Linked DNA regions of Homo sapiens. The protein of the gene in region 1 interacts with the protein of each later gene in a pairwise test. Each region holds a gene or a part of one and is shown on either strand. Other genes may lie near its edges.

The links.
Region 2: the proteins of STMN3 (region 1) and GLP1R interact in a protein complementation assay, tested with the Homo sapiens proteins (one study listed by BioGRID).
Region 3: the proteins of STMN3 (region 1) and PLEKHA7 interact in binary tests that used the Homo sapiens proteins (3 or more experiments, as listed by UniProt).
Region 4: the proteins of STMN3 (region 1) and MNS1 interact in binary tests that used the Homo sapiens proteins (3 or more experiments, as listed by UniProt).

Annotation. Positions count from the first base shown.
Region 1 is NC_000020.11:63,650,402-63,657,878, forward strand, and holds the start of STMN3 (stathmin-3), read right to left. Parts: upstream 3,024-7,477; 5' UTR 2,945-3,023; coding exon 2,926-2,944; intron 2,366-2,925; exon of another isoform or gene 2,172-2,365; intron 1-2,171. UniProt on the Homo sapiens protein: Exhibits microtubule-destabilizing activity, which is antagonized by STAT3.
Region 2 is NC_000006.12:39,072,769-39,079,791, forward strand, and holds part of GLP1R (glucagon-like peptide 1 receptor precursor), read left to right. Parts: intron 1-93; coding exon 94-247; intron 248-841; coding exon 842-1,001; intron 1,002-1,545; exon of another isoform or gene 1,546-1,613; intron 1,614-4,761; exon of another isoform or gene 4,762-5,145; intron 5,146-5,553; coding exon 5,554-5,614; exon of another isoform or gene 5,615-5,699; intron 5,700-6,128; exon of another isoform or gene 6,129-6,188; coding exon 6,189-6,258; intron 6,259-6,343; coding exon 6,344-6,432; intron 6,433-6,795; coding exon 6,796-6,934; intron 6,935-7,023.
Region 3 is NC_000011.10:16,787,411-16,794,433, forward strand, and holds part of PLEKHA7 (pleckstrin homology domain-containing family A member 7), read right to left. Parts: intron 3,793-7,023; coding exon of another isoform or gene 3,790-3,792; coding exon 3,601-3,789; intron 3,506-3,600; coding exon 3,388-3,505; intron 2,469-3,387; coding exon 2,365-2,468; intron 1,887-2,364; coding exon 1,686-1,886; coding exon of another isoform or gene 1,677-1,685; exon of another isoform or gene 72-1,676; intron 1-71. UniProt on the Homo sapiens protein: Required for zonula adherens biogenesis and maintenance. Acts via its interaction with CAMSAP3, which anchors microtubules at their minus-ends to zonula adherens, leading to the recruitment of KIFC3 kinesin to the junctional site.
Region 4 is NC_000015.10:56,455,125-56,462,147, forward strand, and holds part of MNS1 (meiosis-specific nuclear structural protein 1), read right to left. Parts: intron 4,887-7,023; exon of another isoform or gene 4,504-4,886; intron 1,398-4,503; coding exon 1,270-1,397; intron 1-1,269. UniProt on the Homo sapiens protein: Microtubule inner protein (MIP) part of the dynein-decorated doublet microtubules (DMTs) in cilia axoneme, which is required for motile cilia beating.

The DNA.
Region 1 (7,477 bases):
GTAGTGCCCGCTCCCAGGGTCACACCTCACGCCCACCCCTCCCGCCGTCCAGGTGGATGGTGCCCACTCCCAGGGTCACACCTCACGCCCACCCCTCCCGCCGTCCAGGTGGATGGTGCCCACTCCCAGGGTCACACCTCACGCCCACCCCTCCCGTCGCCCAGGTGGATGGTGCCCACTCCCAGGGTCACACCTCACGCCCGCCCCTCCCACCCACCCGGGTGGATGGTGCCCGCTCCCAGGGTCACACCTGACGCCCACCCGGGTGGATGGTGCCCGCTCCCAGGGTCACACCTCACGCCCACCCCTCCCGCCCGCCCGGGTGGATGGTGCCCGCTCCCAGGGTCACACCTCACGCCCACCCCTCCCGCCGTCCAGGTGGATGGTGCCCACTCCCAGGGTCACACCTCACGCCCACCCCTCCCGCCGCCCAGGTGGATGGTGCCCACTCCCAGGGTCACACCTCACACCCACCCCTCCCGCCCACCCGGGTGGATGCCCTTATCAGCTCTCCTTCTCCTTCTCTTTCGTCTTCTTCGTCTTCCTCCTCTTCTTTCTTCTTTTTTTTTTTTTTTAGAAAGAGTTTCTACTCTTGCTGCCCAGGCTGGAGTGCAATGGCACAATCTCAGCTCACTGCAACCTCCCTCTCCCCGGGTCAAGCAATTATCCTGCCTCAGTCTCCCAGATTGCTGGGATCACAGGAGTGTGTCACCACACCTGGCTAATTTTGTACTTTTAGCAGAGAGGGGGGATTTCACCATGTTGGCCAGGCTAGTCTCGAACTCTTGACCTCAGTTTATCCACCGGCCTCAGCCTCTCAAAGTGCTGGGATTACAGGCATGAGCCACCCTATCTGCCTCACTTCTACAGAGGAGGAATGAAGGCTCAGAGAGGGCAAGCATTCCACCCAGCATCACACAGAGTGCCGGGTGAGAGCCCAGTCATGAGCCTGGGCCTGACTGCAGGCTCCTGTTGGGAGCTCGCGGAGGTGGGGGATCTGTCCAGAACTGAGAGGCCAGGGGACCACAGTGGCCTCTGACCCCTGGAGGGCCCTGGAGGCTGCTGCCGGCTCCCCCCGGGGGCAGATGGAGGTCACTGTCACCCAGGCTGCTTCTCATGGTGCCAGGAGCACAGCATGGCAGGAGCCACCAGCCGATTTGCCTTTCCCTGGGCAGGAAACTCAGAAATGTGGCTACCACAGTCAGGCTGCTTGACGTGCGGTGAGCACTCATCTCTTAGCAGGCAAGCGGCCAAGCACCTTTCCTGAAATATTGAGGCCTCAGAACAAGCCCCAGGAGAGGTGCCAGCACCGTCATCTCTACCCAGATAAGGAGACCCAGGTCCTGAGAGGTTAGGCAGCTCGGACAACACCACACAGCTGGAGGAGGTCAGACTCTGGGTTGCAGAAGGAGAATGTGAGCAGAGGCCACAAAAGAGCGAGGAGCCAGTGCCCAGATGCCGAGATGCCCTCGCCCTCCCAGCTCAGCCCCAGGAACCGAGCCCATGGGGAGGGACCGTCAGGGAAAGGCTGTCAGGAAGGGCAGGAGGCGGCCCTGGAGAGGACGGCGCTGCCCTCAGGGGCAGGAGGGGAGTCCCCTCCGCTGAGAGCCCCCCCACCCCCAGTATCCCCGGGGGTGTCCAGGAGGAGGCGGAGGGAGGAAGCGCAGATGGACAGGACTCCCAGATAGGGTGGGGAGGTGTGGCCGGTGACACACACGGTCCCCTCCTGGCAGGTGCTGAAGTCACCTGGAGCCTCCAAGCCCGTGGGGCCTGAGGGGCGGGGTCAGGTCGGGCACGCGTGGGTGGGCGGAGTTCTGCGCCCCGGGCCAAGGCGCCCGAGTTGAACCAGTCAGCTCGGGAGAGGGACCGCGGCGACCTGTCCCGGGGGCGTAAGAAAAGGTGGGAGGGAGTGCGGCTCGTGAACGGGGGCGGCGATGGGAAGGAGGTGCGGCCCTTCGTCCTGTCCTCCCAAACGTCGAGTGAAAAACGAAGCGGGTTCTGCGGCCTCGCGGCGGAGCAGAGCGTTTCGGGAAGGGCGGGCCCAGCGTCCTCGCGCCCGAGGTCGCCCGGCAGCTCCCCTGCGTCCAGAATCCGCCCCCCGCCCGGGCCTGCGCCCGCCCCTCCGCCTGAGCTCCGCGCGGGACGGGCCGGGAGGCCGGGGTGGGCGCTACCTTCGAAGGCGGTGGGTCCGCCCCGCGGGAGGTGGAGGGGCGGGAGGGGCGGAGCCCTCTGGTCTCCGGAGGGTTTGGGGATCGCAGTCGCCCCTCCCCCATCCAGACCCCGCGGCGCAAAGGGCAGTGGCTTTTCTGGCCAGAGCAGGTGGCGCGGGCGTCGCAAAGGGTGGTCCCCGAGGCCGCAGCGGTGTGGGGGGAGGGCGCGGTCCCCCTCACTCCGGGCTCCGCCGTGTCTGGCCCGCCCCCCTCCTTCAGCGCCCCCTCCAGCCCCTGTGCTGCACTGGCGCGGGGAGCGCCGGGTTCCCGGCTGGGGCTTTGGCAGAGGGTCCCACCCTCTCCCCGCCTCCCCACGAAGGCTCTGGCGGACCCAGATCTCGGGTCGCCGGACGCCCCAGGGACCCCGCCCGCACATCGCGAGCGCGCCCACCCGGTCGCGAGCCCACGCCCGGGTCTGGGAGCCACCCTGCGGCAGTCGCGCCCTGCGTGGCACGCTGCTCCCCCAGGGGCGAGGCGCCCCCGCCCGACGTCCCGGTCCCGAGCGCTCCCCGGCGCGGCGCCTCGCAGCCCAGCGCCCCACCAGCCCCGCCGGCGCCGCAGACCCCAGCCTCGGGCGGGTCGGGCCCAGGCTTGCAACGCGCAGGGTAGGAGAAGGGAAATTGGCGTCCGCTGCCGGCCGCTGCCCCAGGCGAGGCCAGACGAGGCCTCTGCTCAGATCCCGCCGCCCCACAAAGCCCGTGGCCCCGGAGCCTACCGGAAATGGTGCTGGCCATGGTGCTGGCGGCGGTTGGGCCTGCGGAGGCTGGAGAGGCGCAAGTGGCGGCCGGAGCTGCAGACGGCTGGTGCTGCAGTGCCGGGGAGGGGAGGGGAGAGGAGTGGAGGGAGCGAGGGCGGGCGGGAGGCGGGCGCGGCGGGAGAGAGAGAGGGAGGGAGACAGAGGGAGAGAGAGAGAGGGTTGGGGGAAGGAGCGGGGGGAGGAGGGAGGGAGGGTTGGGGGAAGGAGAGAGAGAGAGAGAGAGACTGCGGGGGCGGGGGAAGGAGGGAGGGAGGAAGGGAGGGAGGAAGAGAGAGAGGAGCAAGCGCCTGGCTGCGGAAGGGGCCGCGGCTCTCAGGGGGAGAGGGCGGAGGAGGGGGGCTACCCGAACTGCAACAAGACCCCCCACCCTCCAACCGCTCACAGCGGGACAGCTGCTTCTCCAACTTGGCTTTGTGAGGCCTGAGAGTGGGGTGGGGGTGGAGATGAGCCCCCATTCCCCAGGGCAGGCGGGGCAGGGGCAATGCCGGAGGAGCAGGTCCCACCCATGGGGTGGGGCCGCAGAGCTCTTCGCCGCCAAGGCCGCTGTAGGCTGGGCTGGCGCCAACAGGGTCCAGGTCTGTGCCTGCCATCGGAGAGGATGCCACAGCCACAGGGGTGGGCGCTGGCCTGGAGGCCTCCAAGGGGCATCTCCTGTGAGCCCAGGGGATGGGCAGGATCTGAGCGGAGAAGAGTGAAAGTGGAGGAGTGAGGCCAGAACAAAGGCTTTGCCGTGAAAGAGGTGGTTTCCCGCCTGGGCTCAGACCTTCACTCACTGTGTGGCCCAGGCCAAGGGCAAGCGTCTGACCTCGCTGGGCCTTTGTTTCTCAGGGGTAAGATGAAACAATGATGCCCCCAGACGATGGAGAGGAGGGGTGCCAGGGTTGTGCGCACTTAGTGAGTGGGGGGCAACCTATCCTGCCTCCCCCTCTCCTCATAACTCCCAAAGGGAAAGCCTGGTAGGCAAACGGAGCGTCTTTGCCATTGCAGGGATGAAGCCACCGAGGCAGGGAGAAAAGTGCTTTGCCCTACAAGCAACTAAGTCATAGGGCCAGGAGCAAAACCCTGAAAACCTCAGGAGACTTGCAGAGCCATGAGGCTGGCTCAGCAACACAAAAGCCAGGGGCAAGCCTCAGCTCTAGCAGTGCGGTGGGAGCACCCAAGGCCAGTCACATCCTAGGGTGGCCTGGAGAGTCCTGACCCCTGACGTGCAAGCCGGCATCATCCCCGGGACTGTGAGTCTGGTGGGGGTGATGCCCAGGAATGTGACATTGTGTGGCCCAGAGGTACCCTTAAGACTGGAGGATCACCAGGCGGGCCCTGACCTCATCACAGGAGCCCTTTAAAAGCAGTTTCCTTTGCCTGGTTGAAGAAATCGGAGGGATCAAACCAAAGAAGGTTTTCTGTTGTTGAGATGAGGGGGCCACGTGGCAAGGATCTGAGAACTGCTCCCAGCCAACAGCCAGCAAGACAACAAGACCTTAACTGCAAGGAAGTGAGTTCTGCCAACAAGAAGAGAATGGGCTTGGAGGCAGGTTTGACCCCAGGGCCTCCACACAAGAACTGAGCCCAACTGCCCACTTGGTTTCAGCCTTGGGTTACTAAGAATTAGGAGGTAATGAATGAGAGTTGTTTTAAGCTGTTGGTTTTGTGGTGATTTGCTATGAAGCCATATCAAACTAATATACACACAGAGGTGTTGGCCCCTGGGCCATTCCTAGGAAGCCAGCTCTGCGAAGGAGGAAGAAGGGCAGAGAGGCACACAGAGCTGCCCACCACAGCAGCTGTGTCCTCCCTGTTGGCCACCACAGTAGCAGTTGGGGATGGTCAGCATCCTTCAGGCAGACTCCAGCCCCGGGTGCTGGAGCTCAGGTGCTAGGGATCAAGAGAAGTAGCCCTCTCTGGGACCTCCAGAGTCTTCTCATGTGGGTGGGGTAGGACCCACCCAGTCAGGCTCAGAGCACCGCAATGCCTCACACTCATTGTGACTCTGGCCAGGCCCTCTCTGAGCCTCTGTGTCCTCATCTGGAGCACAGGGACCAGGTGTGTGGAAGCCCGTGGCATAGTGCCAGGAACACAGTAGATGTGCACAGTGTGCACTAGCAGGAACACACAACAGGGGTACTGACTGTCAGCACCTAGGCAGGCACACGCAATGGGGTACTGACTGTCAGCCATACTGACTGTCAGCGTGCTAGCAGGCATACACAACAGCTGTACTGACAGCACACTAGCAGGCACATGCCATAGGTGTACTGACTCTCAGTGCACTGGCAGGCACACGCAATAGGAGTAATGACAGCATGCTGGCAGGCACACAATAGCTGTACTGACTGTTTGCCCCAATATAGTGCCAGGTCTTGGAGCAGATTTTGACTTCTCACCAAGATCAAATGCAGAAAGTGCACGAGCATTTCAAAGATGTTTTTCACATGCACATTAGTGCTAGTTAAAAAAATGTTTTGACTGGGTGCAGTGGCTCACAACTGTAATCCCAACACTTTGGGGGGCCGAGGTGGGCAGATCACCTGAGGTCAGGAGTTTGAGACCAGCCTGGCCAACATGGTGAAACCCCATCTACCCTAAAAATACAAAAATTAGCCAGGTGTGGTGGCAGGTGCCTGTAATCTCAGCTACTTTGGAGGCTGAAGCAGGAGAATCACTTGAATCCAGGAGGCAGAGGTTGCAGTGAGCCGAGATCCCACCACTGCACTCCAGCCTGGGCAACAATATCAAGACTCCACCTCAAAAAAAAAAATGTTTTTCATAAAGTGTGACTTTTATCAGACCTCTGCATTCTTGAAATTAACTCTGGCTTGGCTGGGCGTGGTGGCCCACACCTGTAATCTTAACACTTTGGGAGGCTGAGGTGGGCAGATCACGAGGTCAGGAGTTCAAGACCAGCCTGACCAACATGATGAAACCCCATCTCTACTAAAAATACAAAAATTAGCCGGGCGTGGTGGCATGCACCTGTAATCCCAGCTACTCAGGAGGCTGAGGCAGGAGAATCGCTTGAACCCAGGAGGTGGAGGTTGCAGGGAGCCGAGATCGCACCACTCTATTCCAGCCTGGGCGACAGAGCAAGACTCTGTCTCAAAAAAAAAAAAGAAAGAAAGAAATTAACTCTGGCTCCTAGAAGGAGCCCTATATCTCAGCAGGACACTCAGTCATTCAACAGACATCTGTCAAGCACCTGCTGTATGCTGGAGCTGTGGGTACGTCAGCAATTAGAGGAAGAGGGCAGGGGTACAGGAGTTCCTGACCACCCCAGGCCAGCACGCTCCTATAGCAGCTGGCAAGGAGCAGATGACTCAGACTTCAGCTCAGTCCACAGGACAGCCTTTTCTGGCCACTGCTCTCAGGAGATGAGATGTGTGGCTGCAAAAGGTAAACTCCTGGCTCCTGAGCAGGCTCTGGGCAATCTGCTCAACGCTCTGTGCCTCACTTTCTCACCCAGAAAGTGTGGACAATGAGAGGACTTATCTGGCTGGGCGCGGTGGCTCACGCCTGTAATCCCAGCACTTTGGGAGGCCGAGGCGGGTGGATCACCTGAGGTCAGGAGTTCAAGACCTGCCTGGCCAACACGGTCAAACTCCATCTCTACTAAAAATATAAAAAATTAGCCGGGCTTAGTGGTGCACACCTGTAATCCCAGCTACTTGAGAGGCTGAGGCAGGAGAATCACTTGAACCCAGGAGGTGGAGGTTGCAGTGAGCCAAGATTGTGCCACTGCACTCCAGCCTGGGCAAAAAGCCAAAACTCTGTCTCAAAGAAAAAAGAATCATGGCAGAAGGTGAAGTCTATGTTAGTCCCAGTTCCCAGGTCGTACATGGCGGCAGGAGAAAGAGAGAGAGAAGGGGAAACTGCCACTTTTAAACCATCGGGTCTCCTGAGCACTCACTGTCAGAACAGCCTGGAGGAAACTGACCGCATGATCCAACCACCTCCCTCCAGGTCCCTCCCTCCACACGTGGGGATTACAATTCGAGGTGAGACTTGGGTGGAGACACAGAGCCGAACCATATCAGCATGTATGGGGGGCACTGAAACTTGTGCTTGGTGCCCATTCATTCAACGAGTGTGTGTGGCTGGTCTCCTCATCTTCAACTCCCTGCCGAGTCTCAGATAGGCAGCCTGCAGTTCCTTCACCACAACAGGCACATGGGGCTGGGTGCCAGTGAGTGCTGGGGCTTCTCCGAGCACTATCTCACACCCAGGAGCGTGGGCACGCATGGCATTCGCATGTGCCGTCAGTGGACATTAAACACAGCCATGAAGAAGCCACGAAGAAGTGCTGCCTGCCGGCCGTGCGCGGTCACGCAGCGCCAACTCCCTCCTGGGGCCTTCTGGGGCCTTCTGGGGCATGGGAGCTGGGGCCGCCTGAGACAAACATCCGTGACGCTGGGCTGACCCCACAGAACGGTGCGGGCCTCGCTCTTGGAGTCAGCCCTGCTGCCAGCCAGTGCCGGGTGCTGGGGACTCAGGGAGGCCCGCCGGGACCACTGCGGGA
Region 2 (7,023 bases), on another chromosome or scaffold:
CATGCCTAATGTGTGTGTTAGCTTGAGAGCCTGGGGTTGTAGAGCAGAACTGTTGGCTGCCTTGCCAGGGAAAGGCCCTGCTTTCTCCCTCAGACACCTGCACTGCACCAGGAACTACATCCACCTGAACCTGTTTGCATCCTTCATCCTGCGAGCATTGTCCGTCTTCATCAAGGACGCAGCCCTGAAGTGGATGTATAGCACAGCCGCCCAGCAGCACCAGTGGGATGGGCTCCTCTCCTACCAGGTGTGTGGTGCATCCAGGACCGCCTCAGGAGGGATGGGCGGTTGGAGGAGGCCTGCCTCTGCCACCCTAGACAGGCCTGGGACAGGAGAAGACAAGAGCCGAACAGTCCTGGCCCTTCGGGAGCCCCCAGTCTGATGGGAGAGGCAGTTCGCCTTGGGACCCTCCAGTCTGCTGAGAGAGGCAGTCTACCTTAGGGAGCTCCCAATCTAAGGGAGGAGACACTGCCCTAGGGAATTCTCAGTCTGACACAAAAGAGTAGTCTTTGGAGACACACTTGAGTTTGAATGTCAGCTCTGTCACTTACTATCTGTACACTTTTAGGCAAGTCACTTACTTCTCTGAGGCTGAGAAATAGGTGAGAAGTCACTTACTTCTCACCTGCAGGGGGATACATTACTTTCTTCCAATCAGGATAGTGAGGATTCAATGAGCTAAAGCAGATAAAGTCCTTAGCACTAGCCCTAGCCAGAGATGTGAGCTCTCTCCTCCTGCATTAACCATGGCAGGATAGTGGCTGGAGCAGGACGGGGAGTGGTATCAAGAGAGGCAGAGGGCAGAGCTGTTGTCCCCATGACACCCTTCCTCTACCCCCAGGACTCTCTGAGCTGCCGCCTGGTGTTTCTGCTCATGCAGTACTGTGTGGCGGCCAATTACTACTGGCTCTTGGTGGAGGGCGTGTACCTGTACACACTGCTGGCCTTCTCGGTCTTATCTGAGCAATGGATCTTCAGGCTCTACGTGAGCATAGGCTGGGGTAAGAACCGCCATCACCCACCCTGGACCTGTGGCACGGGGGTGGGAGACCTTGACCCCTCTTCTAACATGGTACTTGGAACGCACTGCTGAGCAAGGGGCAAGGCCCACTGGGTAACCCTCTTCCTGGGCACAGGACCTTCTGCCCCGGTGCTGTTAAGATGCCGTAGGGGGTTATGGTCCTCCCCTCCTCTGCATAACTCTCCTCCCTTAATGGAAGCCTCCACCGCATGTGGCCAAACACCACCCTCTACCACTATCATGCACACCACTGGAGGTCATGGCACTGTTCTCTTAAGACCACATGGGGACATAAGTTCACACCCAGTCCCGGGCAGCCCGAGGGCCTGAGGGAAATGGTGAGTCCTGGGCCTCAAGGTGGGGAGGGGATCAAGAGGGTAGGGGGCTGGCTGGGGGGAGCCTGCTGGTGCTCTGTCACATGACGATGAAGAGGAGGGCTCAGAGGAGAGCCAAGTACAGTGGGGCAGGGGGGCCAGAGGCCAGCCAAGGAAAGGGTGGACGGCGGATGTGCCTGGAGCCCAGCTGGAAATGTTCTAGCCAAAAAAGTTTGCCAAGAACCATTGTGTCTTTTTTTTTGCTGGAACATTTCTGGTTGTGCTTCTGCCTCTCACCACGTGGGATTGTAATGAGGGGCAGCATTGGGGTTGGGAAGGGGGCTGGGATCCCCTTCACCCCTGGGAAAACATGCAACAGGCCTTTCTGGAGGGACCCACGGTACCCAGAGAATAGGCCCTGCCCTCTGTCCTCCCTAATCTGCCATTGAATCCATGAGTTTTCCTGTTCCACACCATCCCCCGCCCTGCTTGCCACTCCTTCATTCACTCCTCCTTCCTTCATGCGCCCACCTCACGCTGCTCTGACCACGGCTGCCCCTGCCACGGACCTCCGGGGACTTTCCAGCTCAGTCACATCCAGACTCCTCTTCCCTGACAATGGTCCTGTCCCTGAGCCTTTGCAAGGCTGTTCTCCATGCAGGAATGTTCAGGGAGCATCCTTCCCACACCAGGGTGTCCGCTGCCTCTTCAGGAAGCTGCCTCAGGCCACCAGTCCTCGTGGTTCTGTGCTCTCTGCCCTCTCAAGCTCTCCATCCCCTGTCCTTGCACTTCATTTATTTTTACTGGTGTTCCTCAGCCATTTTTCTCTATACAGCTCCCCCCACCCCCCAGGAGAAGAGTAGCCTGAGAGATTTTAATGTGACCAGTGTCTTGAGGACACCAAGGCCCAGAGCTGGCAGGGCCTTACAGGCAGAGCAGGCCCTGGAACCCAGGCCTCCTGACTCCCAGGCTCTGGGCCTGCGGCCATCATGCCCTGTTCTCTTGCCTGGGCTGCATCCCTTCAGTCCCCTGCAGCACCCCTGAGCAGGCTCAGGCCTCTGCACAGGTGGGCAGGTAGGCCTGGCTCCTGCTCACAGATCCCTGCTCCTCACCTGCCTCCTCCACTCCCAGAACCCAGTCCCTTCCTTGGCCTTTTCTCCCCGAGGCTTCTTCCTCCTGCTAGAGCAGGAGGAGGGAGGCCATCGAGGGCAGCTCAGGGAAGGCTGTCTTCAGGGTGGGGGACGGTGTCTGTCCATTCTAGGAAATAGCATCAGCGCTGTTAGTGCCTGTCACCATGGCGACCCGAGGGCAGGAACAATCAAGGGACGTGTGTGATGTGTGCAGAGGAGCGGGGGTGGCTGGAGTTTGGTGGGGACACACTGCCCTAGAGGTCTCTGAGTGGGAGATGGGGGAGGGAGTGCCAAGTCCTTTTCCTACCACCTCACACCCTAGCTCAGGGCTCGGGGTCTGTGGGAGCACAAGGGCAAGACCCGGAGGACACCCTGCTCTAATCAGAACACCTTTTTCTTGAGGATTGGGGTGGGGGAGACGGAGAGAGATTCACAGGTTGCTAGGAGCTCAGACGTGATGCCAGGAGGCCTTGCCCAAGCTGGGATACTTGGGAAACAACTTTCAGCTTCATGTGCAAGTGGAAGAATTAAAATTAGGACTCTGACACAGTTGGAGAGGTCCCCCAAAGGGCATGGCAGCTTCTGCTGCAGTCCCCAGGCAGTTGGGGGCCTGTAGAAACCCACATGGAGGCTGTGCAAGAGGGAGGCAAATGATGGTTGAGGGAATCATTACTTCCTGGAGCCAGTTGTGTGTGTCTTAATTTGAGCTTTTTTCTCCAACCTGTCTTGCTCGTTTTCTAAATGGGAGAAAGATGAAGCCAGCAGGGAGTGCGTAATGTTTGCATGCAGCAGGGCTTTCGTGACTGTGTTTTTTGAAAAGGCCTTGTTAAGGAAATGCTGACGATGAGTGAAACTTGCCAGGTCTGGCTGATAACATGGGTGAGTGCCCTGATCCTGGAAGGAGGTCTCAGAGAGAAGGGACAGCAGGGGGCGAGGGATACCCAGAAGGAAGCTTCTGCATGTGTACGTGGTTCAGGAAATCGGCATGCTCTTGCCCAGACAATGTTCCTTCCCTTATTGGTGTGTTGACTCACCCATCATTCGTTCCATTCTCACTGGGCATCTTCTATGTGGCAGGGCCTGTACCATGTGCTGGGGCCTTTGGAGACCATCCCATTCCTTGTCCAGTCTCATAAAGGCCTGTTACTAAAGCACCGTAGATGCTGAGAGGTCCGATTTGTGTAGAAATCAATGGGCCAGGAGAGAGAGAGCTGATGAAGAATGCTGGTCCGCTGGGGGCTCCTTTGCCTCCTCCATCTCTCCCTGCATCATCAGGCACAGTAGATCTGGGCACACAACCTGCTTAGTAGCTGCTGTTGAGTGGACACTGATGTGCTAAAGACATAGACAATGGTGACAGGAAAGGCTATGAAGTGGTTCTGTCCTGGAAATGTGCTCCAGGCAGAGATTCCCAAAGTCATACGTGCACACTCATGGTCCACCCACCACACCCTCACACACACATGTCTACATACCTTAATATGCACATGCTTACCTATCTCAGACACATCTCCAACACTGAGGGAGGGGCCAACGGAGACGAGCATGGAGACAGCCAGTGCAGAAGGCCATTGAGGGCGGTGGGAGTGGGTATGGGATTGCAGCCCTGAATTCGAGCCCCACCTGTGCCCTTCTGAGTCCCTGATCCATCTCCTCATATGTCATGTGAGGAAGGAAAATCCAATTTTAAATCAACCAACACAGACCCTGAGCTCTCAGGGTGATCTGGGCATTGAGGCTCTGAAGGTGAGTGAGGCCCAGGCTCTACCCTCAAGGAACTGGGAACCAGTTGTATTAATTCTCTATTGCTGCAGAACGATTAACCCTGAAACTTAGCTACTTAAAACAACGAACCATTGTTATCTCACAGTTCCTGTGGCCTGCAATCTCGGTTCAACTTAGCTGGGTACCTTGTGGCTCAGGATCTCACAGAGAAAACTCTTTAGGCAAGAGCATGTGGATTTCCTGAATCACATACACATATAGAAACTTCCTTCTTGGGCATCCCCCACCCCCTGCTGTCCCTTCTCTCTGAGACCTCCTTCTAGGATCAGGGCACTCTCAGAGAAGCAGCCAGCTGTCACCAGGGTTGCTGTCATCTCAAGGCTTAACTGGGGATGGAGAATCTACTTCCAAGCTCATTCAAGAGGCAGTTGGCAGGAAGCCGCAGTTGCTGGCCAAAGGCTGGAGGCCTCCATTTCTTGCTGCAGAGACCTCCATCTAGGCCTTCTGAGTTCTCTCAGCACATGGCAACTGGTTTCCCCCAGAGCAAGTGATCAGAGAAAGAGAAAGAGAATGCAAAACAAGCCACAGTGTCTTTTATAACAATCAGAAGTGACATGCCATCACTTCTGCCAGAGGTTCCTGGGTCACATGAAACAATGCTGATACAACGTGGACTAACTACCCAAGGGTATGAGCACAGGAGGTGGGGATCCCTAGGGGCCATCTTAGAGGCTGTCTACTACACAAGTCAAGTCTCAGCCGAGTGGAAAGTAGTATTGTTGTAGCTGTTGTTATTGTAGGCCACTGCGGACAGTTAGTTGGTCAGCTGGCATCAAGGACTGGGCTCCTGTCTCCATTCCAGGATTCTGCCGAGCCCTCTTGAAGGTGCACAGTGGTAGGGAAGAGATGACTGAAAGGACATCCAGTGCCTTTAGGAGTTGACTGGCAACGTGGGCTGAAGCAAGAGAGAAAATGGGCATCAGAGGGTTCGCCTGCTCCTTGCCTCATCCGTCATGCTGTCCCCACCGCATGGCCCAGTCCCGCTGCTGTTTGTGTGTCTGTGGCCTGGTAACTTAGCCGGGACTCTGAGGGCAAGTCCTGACAGTGTGCCTGGCACACAGGAGGTGGGGGACTGATGACTGATGAGGACCTCTCTGTAAGGAAGAGTCTGGGGGTCCGCATGGGGCTCCTGCTGCCTCTGTTCTCCCAGGTGCCCAGAAAAAAACTAGAAAACATAGTTGGAGGCCAGGCAAGGAGAGGGGCTGGAAGTGTGAGGGGCTTGGGGCAGGGAGAGGCCTCGGCATGTAGACTGTGGCTCTGGCCTGCCAGCCCCTCTCCCCTTCTGTCTTTCCCTCTCTCTTAGGTGTTCCCCTGCTGTTTGTTGTCCCCTGGGGCATTGTCAAGTACCTCTATGAGGACGAGGGGTGAGTGTCCTGCTCCAAGGGGGCGGGTGTGCCCAGGTCCCCATCCTCAAGGTCCATGGGATTCCTTGGTACCTGGGGCACCCATCTGTTGAGAGGATAAAGGGGGGTACCAGGAGCTTAGAAGGTGAATTTAGTTCTCTAATCTCCCCTCCCTGCCCCTGCCCCTGCCCCTGCCCCTGTCCCAGGATTGTTTGATGACTAACGGAACTGGGTCTGTGGGGTACATGGTGCCCTCCTGCAGGTTTTTCTGTAATATCTGCAAGTGAAATGTTTGTGTCATTTTGTATATGATGCTGGGTACACACATGACTGTGTTGGTAGGTCCTTGAAAGCTTGTTTGGGGGCTGTGTGCATCTCTGTGTATGACTGTGTATTTGGACTATGCGTGTGTGTTGTGTGGCTGTGCACTGGCAGGGCTCTGTGGGTCCATGGGACTGGTTTTTGGGTGGCTCCTGGGAGCTGTGTGTGTGGCACTCAACATGGCCATGTGCATTGGCGGCCTCTGTGCCTGCACCTGAGCTGGGGGTCCTGTGAGTCCTGCTGGATGCATGTGTGCATCTCTCTCCCTCCCCAGCTGCTGGACCAGGAACTCCAACATGAACTACTGGCTCATTATCCGGCTGCCCATTCTCTTTGCCATTGGGGTGAGTGATGGTGTCAGGGATGGGAGTGGCAGCTATGATAGGGCTGGGCTGGTGCCCCCTGCCAATCCCCGGCCCCACCCCGCAGGTGAACTTCCTCATCTTTGTTCGGGTCATCTGCATCGTGGTATCCAAACTGAAGGCCAATCTCATGTGCAAGACAGACATCAAATGCAGGTGATGTAACTGAGCTGGCTTTACTGAGGACCCTCAGCAAGTGCCCCTTTCCTTCTAGCAGAGAGAGAGAGAGAGATCCTGGGATGCTTAGCTTAGAGCCCTACACTACCCTCTCCTTCCACCCAGGCCTGGCCTTGGACCCCAAACCCTTGCTTTTGCCCTGTCTCTGGGCAGCCCCTGGACTTGTTGGGGTCTTGACCTCTATTCTTTCCCTCCAGGCAGCCTGTCCCAGGGTATTTGGGGTGGGAGAACATCCATGACCCAGATATCAGGACTTGGTAGGAAGTGGGGAGGGTAGAGAAAGGGAAGAAGAGTCCATGGGAGAGGTCCAGAATGACTCGAGATCTCTGCCCTGCCCCTCAGACTTGCCAAGTCCACGCTGACACTCATCCCCCTGCTGGGGACTCATGAGGTCATCTTTGCCTTTGTGATGGACGAGCACGCCCGGGGGACCCTGCGCTTCATCAAGCTGTTTACAGAGCTCTCCTTCACCTCCTTCCAGGTGACTTCATGCTTGGGGACACTTGCTTGTAAAGTCCTAGAGTGGGGGTGGGACAGACACCAGCCTGCATCATGCAGATGGAAAAGGTG
Region 3 (7,023 bases), on another chromosome or scaffold:
ACTCCAAATCAATGTAATCACTCTTAGGTGATGGTTTCCAACTATTGTTGGAAAGGATTAGGCAACTGAAGTTCCAAAGATGAAAAAATCAATTTAATGATTCACAAAGAAAACACTCATTTCCTTACACGCTCACAAATGCTCCAAATAGAGACAAGTCCTCATTTAAACCCAGCCTGATTGTTTCCACAAACAGGAAAAGTTCACTAGACTCTATAAGGTATCCTGGGGAAGAACCACGCCAATCCATTATTATTAAGCAACATGTTTATTGGCGTTGATGCAGAGACTTACACAAGTCTTCTTTTTTAAGAGAAAAATTACAAGGTATTCAAGTTACGATTTTTAGATAATCTCTACATTTGAGACATCAAATTATAAAAGGTCAGTGTTACCCCATATGACATTTGTTTTAAAAGTTTAAAGGTTACCAGGTTTGCAGCTTTTAAAGATATGAATGTCCTGGGCCTTACCCCTTTGGTGTCTGAGCTAGCAGCTGCAGAGAGGCCCTCTGAATACACAGTATATTTTGCTATCCCTTCAAGTTATTAAATACCAGAAACACAAAAGGTTTTCCATAAGAAATTGTGTGATTGGACTACAGGAATTAAAACCGAACAACCTCAGTCTTGGGAGAATGTATTCAAACGTGCAATCTCTGAAGTCCCTGTCTACTGTCCAGGTGTAAAGCATGGATTTTTATAAATTAATAATGCCCAGACCTCTGCCAATGACTGTGGCGTCAGGCAGCAGGTTGGCTCAGGCTTGTGGGGTGGCTTTTGGGACAAGTGAATTATGAGTCAGTAGGCCTGCATGAAGAGGGCAGCAGAAAGGTGAGTCACATCTGGGAACACTCAACAGGCTATGGAGACAAGAACCGCTATTACAAGCCCGGTAATAAGTAGCACAGGCCAGTTAGAGCATGTTCAATGCAAATCAGAAGCTTCTGTAAACACAATCAGGCAGGATTAGAGAGGCAATGAGCGGTAACACTAAAAGCAAAGGAGCTTGTGCAATGAATTAGGGAAAGAACAATCAGGCTAGAGGTTTAGGGAAACATGGGATTTCAAACAACAGGGAAAAGTCAAATGGAATGTTTCCAAAGGGACCTAAGGTGACTGTGGACAGGGCGCAGCGCCAGGAAGCGCCACCAGGGGGCAGCACAGGCCTCCCCAGCAATCCCAGACACCCTGAGGCCTCTGCACTGCAAGCCCAGGGAGACCAGTGGCCCTTGGGGCAGGGGTGTGACCCCGTGCTCCATCACCCTCACACAGCATCTGCTGGCAGGTCTGGGAGGCTGATCAGTTTGCTTGTGCTTCTAACCAAATCATGTCACCATCTTCCTCCTCTCCTCTCTGAACCCTGTATTCCCAGGTCCTGAATTCAGCCGAGATTCCGAACGCCTGCAAAGGCCCCTCTCCATCGCGGCTGGGAGGACTGACTGGGTATTTCCTCAGGCTCCTGGGCCTGTTTGATCCTCACTCCAGCTCTGGTTCAGGTCACCCTCTGACCAGGCATTCGTCCAGCCTGGGTCGTGGACAAACAGCCCCGTGGGGTGTTCTCTGAACCATGTAGGTCAATGGACAGCTCTCTCACTGGGAGGTGTGATGTGCTTGTGTTTGGGGGACTCTGAGGGGCACTCGGCTCCCTGTCCCTGCCCCGCTGCCTGGCCCCTCCTAACATACTGAGCCAAGATCTCCAGGGAGCGGCCGGCTGAGGTAGCGAGATGAGGGCAGGCCCGTCCTCTCCCCTTGGCCCAGTGTCCTCTTGCGCTCTCGGACCAGGGCCTTCTGGTGTCGCTTCATGCGCTCCAGCTGCTCCTCTGCACTCATCTTGCCTCGCTGGTGATCCCCTGAGTACAGGCGCTCCAAGGCACTCTTAGGTCTCTGAGGAAGAGGAGGCAGGCAAGAGAGACACAGAACAGCTGGGCTGGGCACGCAGAGGACAGCCACCCTGCTGGCTGCATTCCCGTTGTCTCTCTCTCACACACATGCACACTCTAGTTGGGCTCCTCTTGGCCTTAGAGAACTATTTCCTCTAAGCAACACGATGCCCCCAACCCTCAGGAGCTTTCTGAGTAGCACCCATTCTGCAGATGCAGACACTTAGGCTCAGGCCTGTCCAGTGAGGCCAGAACCCAGGGTGCAGGCTTCTTGAGCTCCCTCCTGCCACCCTGACAGGCCAGAGAGAAAGGCAGGATGCCCTCCTTGGTGGACAGTGGGTGACAGGGAGCTCAGGAGGGGCTGAGGCCACCCCAGAGGCCATCCCCAGGGCTGAAGGGATGGCCAGTTACTGTCCCCCTGGGAGACCCTCCCTCCCCATGTGAAGGAGCAGGGAGGTCCTCGACAGCTCAAGGCCACTCACAGGGAAGGTCGCCTTGCTGCTTTCGGCATTGAGACCCCTCCGGAGTGTGACGTAGGGAGCAATGGTGGACGACTGCTGGAGCCTTGACGTGGACCCTGAGAGCCCTTAGTGAGGAAAGAGAAGTGCAAGCATGTTTGTGCTGGGGTGGATGGGTCCCTGCTTCTCCCTCATCACACATTCTTGCAGGAGTACCAAGAGCACCCAGTCAATGACCCACCCTTATTTCTCTTCTTCCTCCCCAGGGCATGGAGGAGCAAGGTCCCCAATAGAGGATGGGGGCCAGCCCAGGGGTGACCTTTGTCCCTGATGGGGGGCAGTGTCCCTGCAGATCTGTGGACCACCCCAGGCTTCCCTTACATGCAGATGACTGGGCTGCCTGGCAGGTAGAAAGGCTGGCGGGGCAGGAATGCCTTTCACCCCCTGATCCATTCTTAGGCACCCTGCACAACCCAACTTGGGGTGAGGAGGACAGTGAGAAGGACACTCAACTGGCAAGAAAGCATTTAAGGAAAGGGCTCACTGAGTCTTAGAGTGGCACTCTGGAAGGTCTGAGATGGCCAAGGTGGTGGCAGCCACCCAGCACTCCGGCCTACAGGGTGCAGTGACTCTGGAGCCAGAGCACTGGGATTGTCTTCCGGTTCCACCAATGACCAGCTAATTGGCAAGTTATTTAATTTCTCTGGGCCTTAGTTTCTGTGTCTCTAAAATGGGGATGACAGTACTTTCCTCATAGGATTGTTGTGAATATCATGTCTATATAAAGTGCTTAAACAGTGCCAGGCTTTCTAGTAACTGCTATTATCATTGTTCCTGGGGACAGATGTAACAAAAGAGGAAGAGAATCAGGATGTGGGCCAGAGGAAGACAGGCCAGGTCCTCCCTCTTGGCATCCCAGACCCCCCTGACAGCTGCTGCTCACTCCTAGGCCTAGAGCTGCAGGCAGAAGGGTACGAGGCACCAGCTGAAGGCTGGAAGCAGTGTGGTGGGATTCCCAGAGAAACTCCAGGGAGGGCCCTGCCTTACCTCTGCCTGGCAGCGTCTGGTACCTGCTCTCAGGGCCCACAAGTCCTAGGGAGGGCTGGGCCATGTCCCCGCTGAGGGTCGCCAGCTCAGGCTCACTGACATACGACCGCAGCTCCACCTGTGGGCAGAGTCCCAGGTGATGTGACCTGCCAGTGTCACACCCCTTTACCTCTCCCCACATGTAGAGTGGCAGCCCCAGGGTCCCCCGCTCACCCTGGAATCCCCATTCACACACTGCCCCAGCTCCCGGTCTCGCTTCCTCTCGTCTGACTGCCGCTTGAGGCCCCGCACAGATGTGTGCCGGATGATGGTGGCCTCTCTTGGCAGAGGCGGCACAGCCGGGGGCTGGTCCTCTGGGCTGTAGAGTTCGGGGAGTGGGGGCCTGGGAGGTGCTTCATCTTCCTGCTGAGAAAGAGAACCAGACCAGTGGTCAGCGAGACGGAGCTGGAGGGAGGACTGCTAGGTACTGCCACAGTGGAGGTTTAAAGGGTAGGAACAGGCCACATCAGAGCCACAGAACATGACTGCCTCAGCCAAGGAGCACTCACACTTCCCCTGGCGGAGCAGTGAAGAAGGGACATGCTCTGCTCCTCTATCCCCTCAGAGGTATACAGTTTCTATTCCTCCAAGTGTTACCTGTATAACTGTGTCCTGAAACCCAGGACTCAGGTCTCCTGGGTCCATGCCCTCGGTGCTGTGCTGAACTGCTCCCTCCGCTCATCTGGAGTGCACATCGCAGGCAGGCTGCTAACCCTGCCCTGACTTCCATGCTTATCACAGCACCACCTACCTGGAGAGTAACATCTACCCACTCAGCAGTGCTCAGCCTGAGCCGGCTCATTGGCCCTACACGAGCTCTGGCGCCTTCAGCAAGGTGGGGACCTGAACAAGGACAGAGTCTACATCCTCCTGGCCTTTCTATCAGAAATGTGCATGGTTACAAAATATTTCCTCCTTCCTGACTCAGACAGAACAGGCGGTCAGGATGAGTGACTCACTGCCTACCATGCAGTTCATTCCCTAGAATGTGATGAATGCAACATTTTCCTTGAAACTCCCTGTCCACAGTGTTCTGTGAGGGCTGTGGTTCCTCTACATATCAACAGACCGGCCCCTGGTTGCCATGAACACCCACTCGCAGGACTAACGACCATCATGCCTTCCACCTCCTAAATTCCCTCTTTCTCGGTCTAATTTGGTTTTGTTTTTAAGAATTTTGCAGAGTTCAGGAAAGGGCACTCCAAGCTCTTGGAAAGTTCAGGAAAGAGCACTCCAAAGCAAAGGTTTATCAACAATCTTCACTGATGTGTGAAAGTTAAGCCATCTGCCTAAGATACGCACTGGTTCTCTGAGGATCCACAGTTTCCAATCCTGACAAGATATCCGAATCACCAATTTCTAAAAAGCTCCCCAGAAAGATAAACATAAAACATTGATTGCCTTTGATTGAATGGAATGTCTGGAGGCAGAGGGTGGGAAGGAGACATGTTATTATGTACTTTTTTATATCTTTTGCTTTTGTATCTTTTGAGAATATTATCTAATTTATTTTTAAAAAGACATTAAACTCAAGAAAATAAGTCAAATAAAAATAAAAGAACTATAGCCACATGCAACAATGTATATAAATCTCACAAACATAATGTTGAAGAAAAGATGCAAGACACAAAATAGTATATAGAATTATATACCAGCATAATCACAGTGTTTAGGAGTCAACACAGGTACTAAAATTAAAAAAAAAAAAAAAGGCAAGGGGATTATTATCCAAAAAGTCAAGATTGTGGTTACTTCTGGCAGACAGGAAGCAGCTTGGCCTGGGAAAGAACCCACAGGCTTCTGGTTGCTGGCAGTGTTCTATTTCTTAGTCTAGCTGTTGGTATAAAACAGGTGGTCTCTTTATTGTTATTTGTTAAATTATATAATCCTGTTTTATGTCATTTTCAGGATGGATATTATTGTTTCACAAATATAAATGGGTTTTATTTTGTTTTGAGACAGGGTCTTGCTGTATTGCCCAGGCTGGAGTGCAGTTGTGTAATCACAGGTCACTGCAGCCTCAAACTCCTGGGCTCAAATGATCCTCCTGCCTTAGCCTTCCCAGTAGCTGGGACGACAGGCAAGCAGCACCACGCCCATCTTATAAGTGTTAAAAACAAGTAAGTAATAAAACAAATGGTAAAACTGGCAAACACACATATATTCCTAGGAGAGAGGACCTCTCCTGGTGATCCTGATGCTCACCCAAGCTGAGAAAGCCCTGCCTGAGAGCCACAGATGACCAAGCTGAGGAGGAGCCTCTGTGACCATCTACAAAAGGGAAAATGAGGAGGCTCAGGGAAGGGACGGACTTGCCTGAGGACACAGTGAGAGAATCAGTCCCGGAATCTGGGTGTCCCAGCTCCTATGCCAGTGCCTTTTTCCCCTACGCCCTGTCCCAGCTGGCAGCATTCTGCCCTATGTTGGCAGCCATCTGCCCCAGACATTCCTGCTGTTTGTTTTGGAATTTTCCCTCTCCTGTTTTAGGGCTAGAGCTCCAGTCCACCTCTTGGATCTGGGATTGGGAAGGAGATCTCAAGATGCTGAAATCCACAGTGACTCTCTGGCTGGGTGCTGGGCCATATCCTGGGTCCAGCTCTGGGCCCTGGACTATGGCTGGAAGCAGGTAGATGGTGAAGACCAGGGCAGCAGAACTCATGTGTTTTACCCAGCACTGTGCACTGACCTCATCAGAGGTCCAGGCACACACAATGCCCAGGTAAGTCTCCTCCAAGCCTTTGTTGGCAAAAATCTGGAGGGCCCCATTCCGAGGTCCACTCTTCTATGGCTTCCCTGCACTGGGACCAGCCTCATTGTGTTCTCCAGCCAAGGCTGGCCTGGCCCTGGAGGCGTGAGCTCTCTTGGGACCTGACCACATCTCCTATTTCTTTAAAGTCTCCTGCATTCCCAGACTCTGCCAAGAGCTTGGCCCCTTTCTATGCCAGGCAAACCAAGGTGCTGGCCCAGTCAGCCACAGAGGCCACAGACCGGATCTGGGACTGAAAGCCCAATTAGATGGCAGATGGCACAGAATAAAAGAGAAGGGCCAGGAGATGTGATTGGATTCACTAGTTAGCATGGAGACATTGAGCAAATGTCAACAATTTAGGCTCTTAGTTTTCTTCTCTGTGGAATGGGGATACTGCTCTTGCTGTGTATACTCTGCGAGGTTATTTTAAAGATCAAAGCATCCTCACAACCCAGCCCAGTGCTCAGCGGCGGGTGAAGGGAAGGACACTTTTCCACTGGACTGAACTCACTGCCCACAGGCTGTGTAACTGCAGGAGAGCCCCCTGCGGATTTGCACAAAGGTTTGCATGGGGACAGCTTCGTCCACAGCCACACACCTCTCTGCAGATCACAAACTCCACCCTACTCAGCACGCTCACTTCTTCTTGGTGGGCCTCAGTTTTCCCAACTGCAAAATGGGAGAGTTGGGTTAGATCATCTTCCAGGGCTCTTCCAGTTCTGACAGTCTAAGGCACAATAGCAGGGAAATACTACTTTTTAACTGCTTGTGACTAAGGACTCCTTTAGGACGCTGGCTGGGTCCATTTCCCCAAGTTTTCCCAGGAGTTTCTCTCCCAGGAGAAGGTA
Region 4 (7,023 bases), on another chromosome or scaffold:
ACTTTTTCTCAGGAGGAACATTTATCTGAATAACCTAATCTGCAATTGCTAGAAGTGAAAATCTCTTCTATTTAATTCTTGTTTTCAGGGAATTAGAGATAAGAAATAGTTCATCGTCAGGTGAAAAAAAAAAAAAAAAAAAAAAAACCATGAGTAACAGCTAATGATGGTTGGAGAATTAGGGCCCAAAAAGATAGTTTGAGACTAGAACAATAAGCAGATTTTAACAGTAATTCTAAATTTCTAAGGATCGGTAATCTCTTAGAGAATCTGATTAGAGTTGTGGAGCCAGAAAAATACACATGGATACATTTGCCAAACATATTAATATAATTTAACAAGGTTCAAAATCCATGAAGCTCATCCATGTTTCCTGTAATATTCTACAGACGTCCTGCTCAATTAAGATAAAATGTAACAACTATCGAAGTAAATTTCCAATATATTCAATTACATAAGTATATGATTAGCATTTACTTGGCCCTGAGTTTTGATTAACACTGTGACAAGGCTGTTCCTAAAAAGTAATTCGATCTTAGGCAGGATCAAGAAACATTCTAGAATAGTGTCCTGTCATCTGGAGTATCTGGCAGTCTTTCTTGGAGTATTATACGGAAGTATGGGGGCAATTAAGGAATACTAATAATTTAAACTGTAATCAGAGAAGAAACCAGGATGATGAATAAACTTAAAGCCAGGTTATGTAAGAAACAACTGAAGGAACAAGGGATAGCTAACTTACAGAAGAAAACATTTAGTGCGTTCATATATGTGAAAGGACATCTAAAGAAGACAGATGCATGAAGTCACAGAGAAATTAATTTTAAAACAATGGGGGGGAAGATAATTTAACATTAAGACTAAAGTTCCTACTGCAGTTACTAGAGGTACTGAAACACAGGCTCCACAGTCATTCCAGAAATACTGTAGGAAATTTATGTAGAGGTATAAAATTAAACTAGTTATTACCTAAGGTTTCTCTTAAGATTAGGAATTCATTTTTTATAAGAGGTCATTTTAAAATTTATGTGTAAAGGAAAGAGCAGGGGGACTGATATTTATTTTTCACTGTAAATATTCAGACTTCCATGAATACAACTTCTTTTCTCAAATAAATATTTATAGAACTTAAAGCAATAAGTATTTCCAGGTAAAATATTAACTAAGTGAAATGACATAAACAAAGAAATTTCACTTTCAGGTGCTAAGGATTACATAAGAGTTTAAAGATAAAGACTAAATAAATGAAATTTAGAGAAACCAAGATACCTGTTTTCTCTTACTTGTTGCCTCATCTTTTCGTCCTTTAGACTTTCATGTTTCAGTTTTGCCAATTCCATAGCCAGTTTTTCTTCTTGTTTGAGCTGGAGTTCTTTCAATCTCTTGTTTTCTTCTGCCTGAACGAAAAATTTAACTTCGTTGTTTGTCCTCTAGAATCAGATTTTTTTCATCAAGGTTGAATTTGTTTTATAACAGAAAACTAAATGCCTTAAGGCCAACAATTGATGATGTTTTATTTTAAAATACAAAATGTTGTTTCAATAAATACTTTTTCAAAATATTTTATCATGGAAAATTTCAAGTATTGCCAATAGTAAGAAGAATATTTAAATACACTCTCAGGTACCCATCACACATGTTTTCAAAAATTGTCGACATTCTGCTAATCTTTTTTCTCTACCTTCCATTTCACTCTTTTTTCCCTTATTCTTTTTCTGCTAGGGTGTTTTAAAACAATCCTAGACATCATGTCACTTACCATGTAAATAATTCAGTATGAATATCTACCTGATCAGAATTTTTAAAAATATAACAATCATGTCATCAACACGTCTAATTAACAATAATTCCTTAATGTCTAATACCATGTTCATATTCAAGCTTTCCCAATTGTCTCAACATACTTTTCTAGTTGGTTTGCTTAAATCAAAATCCAAACAAGATCCACATATTGCATCTAATTATTATTTTTCTTAAGTCTCTTATATATTCTGTAACAATCACCTCTACACACATTTTTCCCCCAAGCCACTGACTTGTTATAGAAATTAGGACATACATCCCGTAGAATGTTCCACATTTTGCATTTGACTGATTGCTTCCCCAGGATATATCACTGAACTTTTTTTCTCTTTTATATTTCCTGTAAAAATGGCAGAAAGATCTAGAGGCTTGATTAAATTCAGTATCTAATAAAAACACATGAAAAGATATTCAACATCATTAGCCATCAGGAAATGCAAATTAGAATTGCAAGGAGATATTACTACGTACCTATTGGAATGGCTAAAACAAAAAACAGTGCCAACACCAGATGCTGGCAAGAAACTATCACTCATATATTGCTGTGTGGGAATGTAAAATGGTACAGGCATTCTGAAAATCAGTTTTATAGTTTGATATAAAACTAACATGCAGCTGAGCGCTGTGGCTTACACGTGTAATCCCAGCACTTTGGGAGGCTAAGGTGGGAGGATCCTTAAGGCCAGGAGTTTGAGACCAGCCTGGGCAACATAGAGAGGTGCTGTCCTTACAGAAAATTAGCCAGGTGTGGTGGCACAAATCTGTAGTTCTAGCTGTATCAGGAGGTTGAGGTAGGAGGACCGCCGGAGACCAGGAGTTCAAGGCTGCAGTAAGTCATGATCATGCCACTGCACTCCAGCTGGGCAACAGAGCAAGACCCTGTCTCTTAAAAAAAAAAAAGCCTCCATGCAATTATCACACAACTCAACAATTTTACCTCTTAAGCATTTATCCCAGGGAAATGAAAACTTTTTATTTAAAAACCTGTATACAAATGTTTACAGCAGATTTATTCATAATAGCCAATACCAAAAATACTCCAGACATCCTTCATCATGTGAGTGGTCAAATAAACTGTGGTACATCCATACTATGGGATACTACTCAGCAATAAAAAGAAAAAGAATGCAAGCAAAACTTGGATGAATCTCCATGAATTATGCTAAGTGAAAAAAGCTAATTCCAAAAGATTACATACAGTTTGATGCCATTTATGTAACATTCTTGGTACATGTTATTTTTTAATAATTGAGATATAATTCATATAGCATAAAATTCACCTTTTACAATTCACAATTCAGTGATGTTGTATATTCACAATGTTGTGTATCTATCACCACTATCTAGTTCCAGAGCCTTAAAAAAAATAGACTTTGAAGTTTTGGGTTCACAACAAAATTGAGCAGAAAGTACACAGAGTTCCCATATATTCCCTGTCCCTACACATGCTCAGCTTCCCCTTCTATCAGCCTCCTCCATTAGACTGGTACATTTGTTACACTCAGTAAACCTGTATTTACATTACTTAAACCTATGCATCATTATCACGCAAAGTCCATAGTTTACATTAAGGTTCATTCTTGGTGGTACACATTCTATGGGTTTTGGCAATGCATAATCATATGTATCTACCGTACACAATCATTTCACTACCCTAAAAATCCTCTGTGATCTGTCTATTCAACCCTTCCTCCCTAAAATCCTAAAAACAACTTACATTTTTACTGTTTCCATAGTTTTGCCTTTCCCAGAATGTCACATAGTCGGAATTATACAGAATGGAGCCTTTTTGGACTGGCTTCTTTCACTTAGTAATATGCATTTAAAGTTCCTCCACATCTTTTCATGGCTTCATAGCTCATTTCATTTTGGCACTGAATAATATTCCATTGTCTGGATGTATCACAGTTTATCCATTATCTACTGAAGGACATCTTGGTTGCTTCTAAATTTTGACATTTATAAATAATGCTGCTATATATTATAAACATTTGTGCTATGGCAGCTATAAAGCTGCCATGTTATATTTTTATAAATGCTATAGATATATATAGGTGATTGTATGTACACACTATATATAGCACATCTGTGTGTACATTTGTGTGTGGCATAAAATGTCAACACTCCAGAATGTTTACATCACCCCAAAAGAAACCTGTAACCTATTAGCAGTCACTTACTATTCCTCTCACCTTTTCCCCCAACCCCTGGCACCTACTTATCTATTTTTTGTCTCCATGGATTTGCATATTCTGGATATTTCATATAAATGAATTCACACAATATGTGGCCTTTTGTATCTGGTTTATTTCACTTAGCAAAATGTTTTCAAGGTTCATCCGTGTTGTAGCATGTATCAGTAATTCATTCCTTTTTATGGCTGTGTAATATTCCATTGTATAGATGTAACACATTTTGTTTATCCATTTATCAGCTGACTGGCATCTGGGTTTCTACTTTCTGGGTGTCATGAATAATGCTGTTATAGACACTCGTGTATGAGTTTTTATGTAGATATATGCCTTCAATTATCTCTTGGGAATATATTTAGTACCCAGCTACACCACACCTAGATTTCTGACTTGCAGAAACTGAGATAATAAATGGGTGTTGTTTTAAGCAGCTAAGTTTGTGGTAATTCGTTACTTAGCAATTGAAAACTACTACAGCAACTAACGTGTACTCTTCAAAATTGTCAAGGTCATGAAAGACAGCAAAAAGTGAAGAATTCTTACAAACTAGAGGAGACAAAGATTGGAGAAGAAACAATGACTGGCTGGGCACGGTGGCTCATGCCTGTAATCCACTTTGGGAGCACTTTGGGAGGCCGAAGAGGACAGATCATCTTAGGTTGGGAGTTGGAGACGAGCCTGACCAACGTGGAGAAACCCCATCCCTACTAAAAATACAGAATTAGCTGGGTGTGGTGGTGCATGCCTATAATCCCAGCTACTTGGAAGGCCTCGGCAGGAGAATCACTTGAACCCGGGAGGCAGAGGTTGTGGTGAGCCAAAATTGCGCCATTGCACTCCAGCCTGGGCAACAAGAGCGAAATTCTGTCTCAAAAAAAAAAAAAAAAAAAATACATATATATATATATATATATATGTGACTATAGTTTATTCAAATGCAAAGCTTGAGGACAGCCACTCAGGAAACACAAACTCCAAAATAATGGGTCATTGTTCCAACGTGGGGAAGTTAAGGTTTCACTTATATAGGCAGAGACAGAGAAGCTTAACAGGGTTGCAACATTTTCCATATAAGGTCAGTATACATATTATAGCAATTTAATTAGTTGCATTCCAAGGAACATTCCATGAGAAAGGGTAATGATCTTGAGGGGTCTTATCTCTGGTGTCTTTCCTAATCATTTACAGAACAAGAATAAGGAAGATTTAATCTGTAATTGGAAAAGCAGAAGTTGTAGCAGCATGCTATGTGACTCAGGACACATAGCCACATTCCTCTCAAGGCTAAAAACTAAGGATACATGACAACTAAATGCAATCTATGGTCCTCAAGTAGCAAAAACACATTAGTGGACAAACTGATGAAATCTGAATAAATCTCACAGTTAACAGTATTCCATGAAAGCTAAATTCTCCATTTTGATAACTTTTCCATGATTTTCATCTGTGTAAGATGTTAAGAAGTAGTCAGGTGAAGGGTATATGTGAATTCTCTACACTGTTTTTGCAACTCTCCTATAAATCTAAACTTATCTCAAAATAATAAGTTAAAAATATGCATATTTCCAAGATTTGTTCACTGAAAAAACCTGGAAGCAATGATAACCCAAGAATTATGAGTAAACCTAGCACCCAAGTTTTCTTGAAATATTATTTCCACTAAATGATAACAGCGCTTCCTGGCACAATGGCTGATTCCAGGTGTAGGACAAAAAATATAAGAGAGAAATTTTGTATTTGTCAGGGTTCTCCAGAGTAAGTGATTATGAAGGCAGGCAAGTTCTAAGATCTGCAAGGTGAGCTGGCAAGCTGAGGAACTAATGGTTTTGTTCTAGTTTGAGTCCTAAAGCCTGAGAACCAGCAGGCTCAAGACCCAGAAAGAGCCAATGTTTTAGTTTGAGTTCAATGACTAGAAAAAAAGGAAATGTCCCAGCTGAAAGGCAATCAGGCATGAAGAATTCTGTCTTATTCAAAAGAAGGTCAGTCTTTTTGTTCTATTCAGGCCTTCAACTGATCGGATGAGGCCCACCTATATTAGGGAGGGCAATGTGCTTTATACTCAGTCTATGGATTTAAATGCTAATCTCATCCAAAACAACCTCACAGAAACACCGAGAATGATGTTTTATCAAATACCTAGAAACCCCAAGGCCCAGTCAAGTTGACACATAAAATTATCACAAGCCTAGAACAGTTTGTTTTGACAAAAAGCAAGGAAGGTATCAAAGATTAAGGAAATATTGTCAAAAGGACACAGAGGGCCAGGTGCAGTGGCTGACACATGTAATCCCAGCACTTTGGGAGGCCGAGGCAGGCAGATCACTTGAAGTCAGGAGTTCAAGACCAGCCTGGCCAACATCGTGAAACCCCATCTCTACTAAAAATACAAAAATTAGCCTAGCATGGTGGTGCAGGCCTGTAATCTCAGCTACTTGGGAGGCTGAGGGAGAAGAATCTCTTGAACCCAGAAGGCGGAGGTTGCAGTGAGCCGAGATGGTGCGGCTGCACTCCAGCCTGGGAGACAGATGAAGACTCTGTCTCAAAAAAAAAAAAAAAAAAAAAACGACACAGAGGCAATATAAAAGGGCATCCATTGGCCAAGGATGAGATAATTTGAGCATCAAAAATAATAATAAATGCAATTAAGTACATAAATATCTATGAGTCCATAAAGGTATTTTTAAAAAGAGACAAAGTCAAAAACTAAATAAAACAAAAATTTAAAAACAACCACAACATAGGTAGACACCAATGGAAGAAAATAGGACACCAATTCCTTACTCTGAAAATTAACTGTCTCCTTTTTCAGTAAGAATAAATAACCCTAGTCAATAACAAAGTGTTTTTTTGTTGTTGTTTTTTTTTTTTTTTTTTTTTTTTTTTTTTTTTTTGTGGGGTGGGGGCAGGGGAACAGGGTATCTGTCATTCAGGCTGGAGTGCGGTGGCAAGATCATAGCTCACTGCAGCCTTGAACTCCTGGGCTCAAGAGATCCTTCCATCTTGGCCTCCCAAAGTGCTAGAATTATAT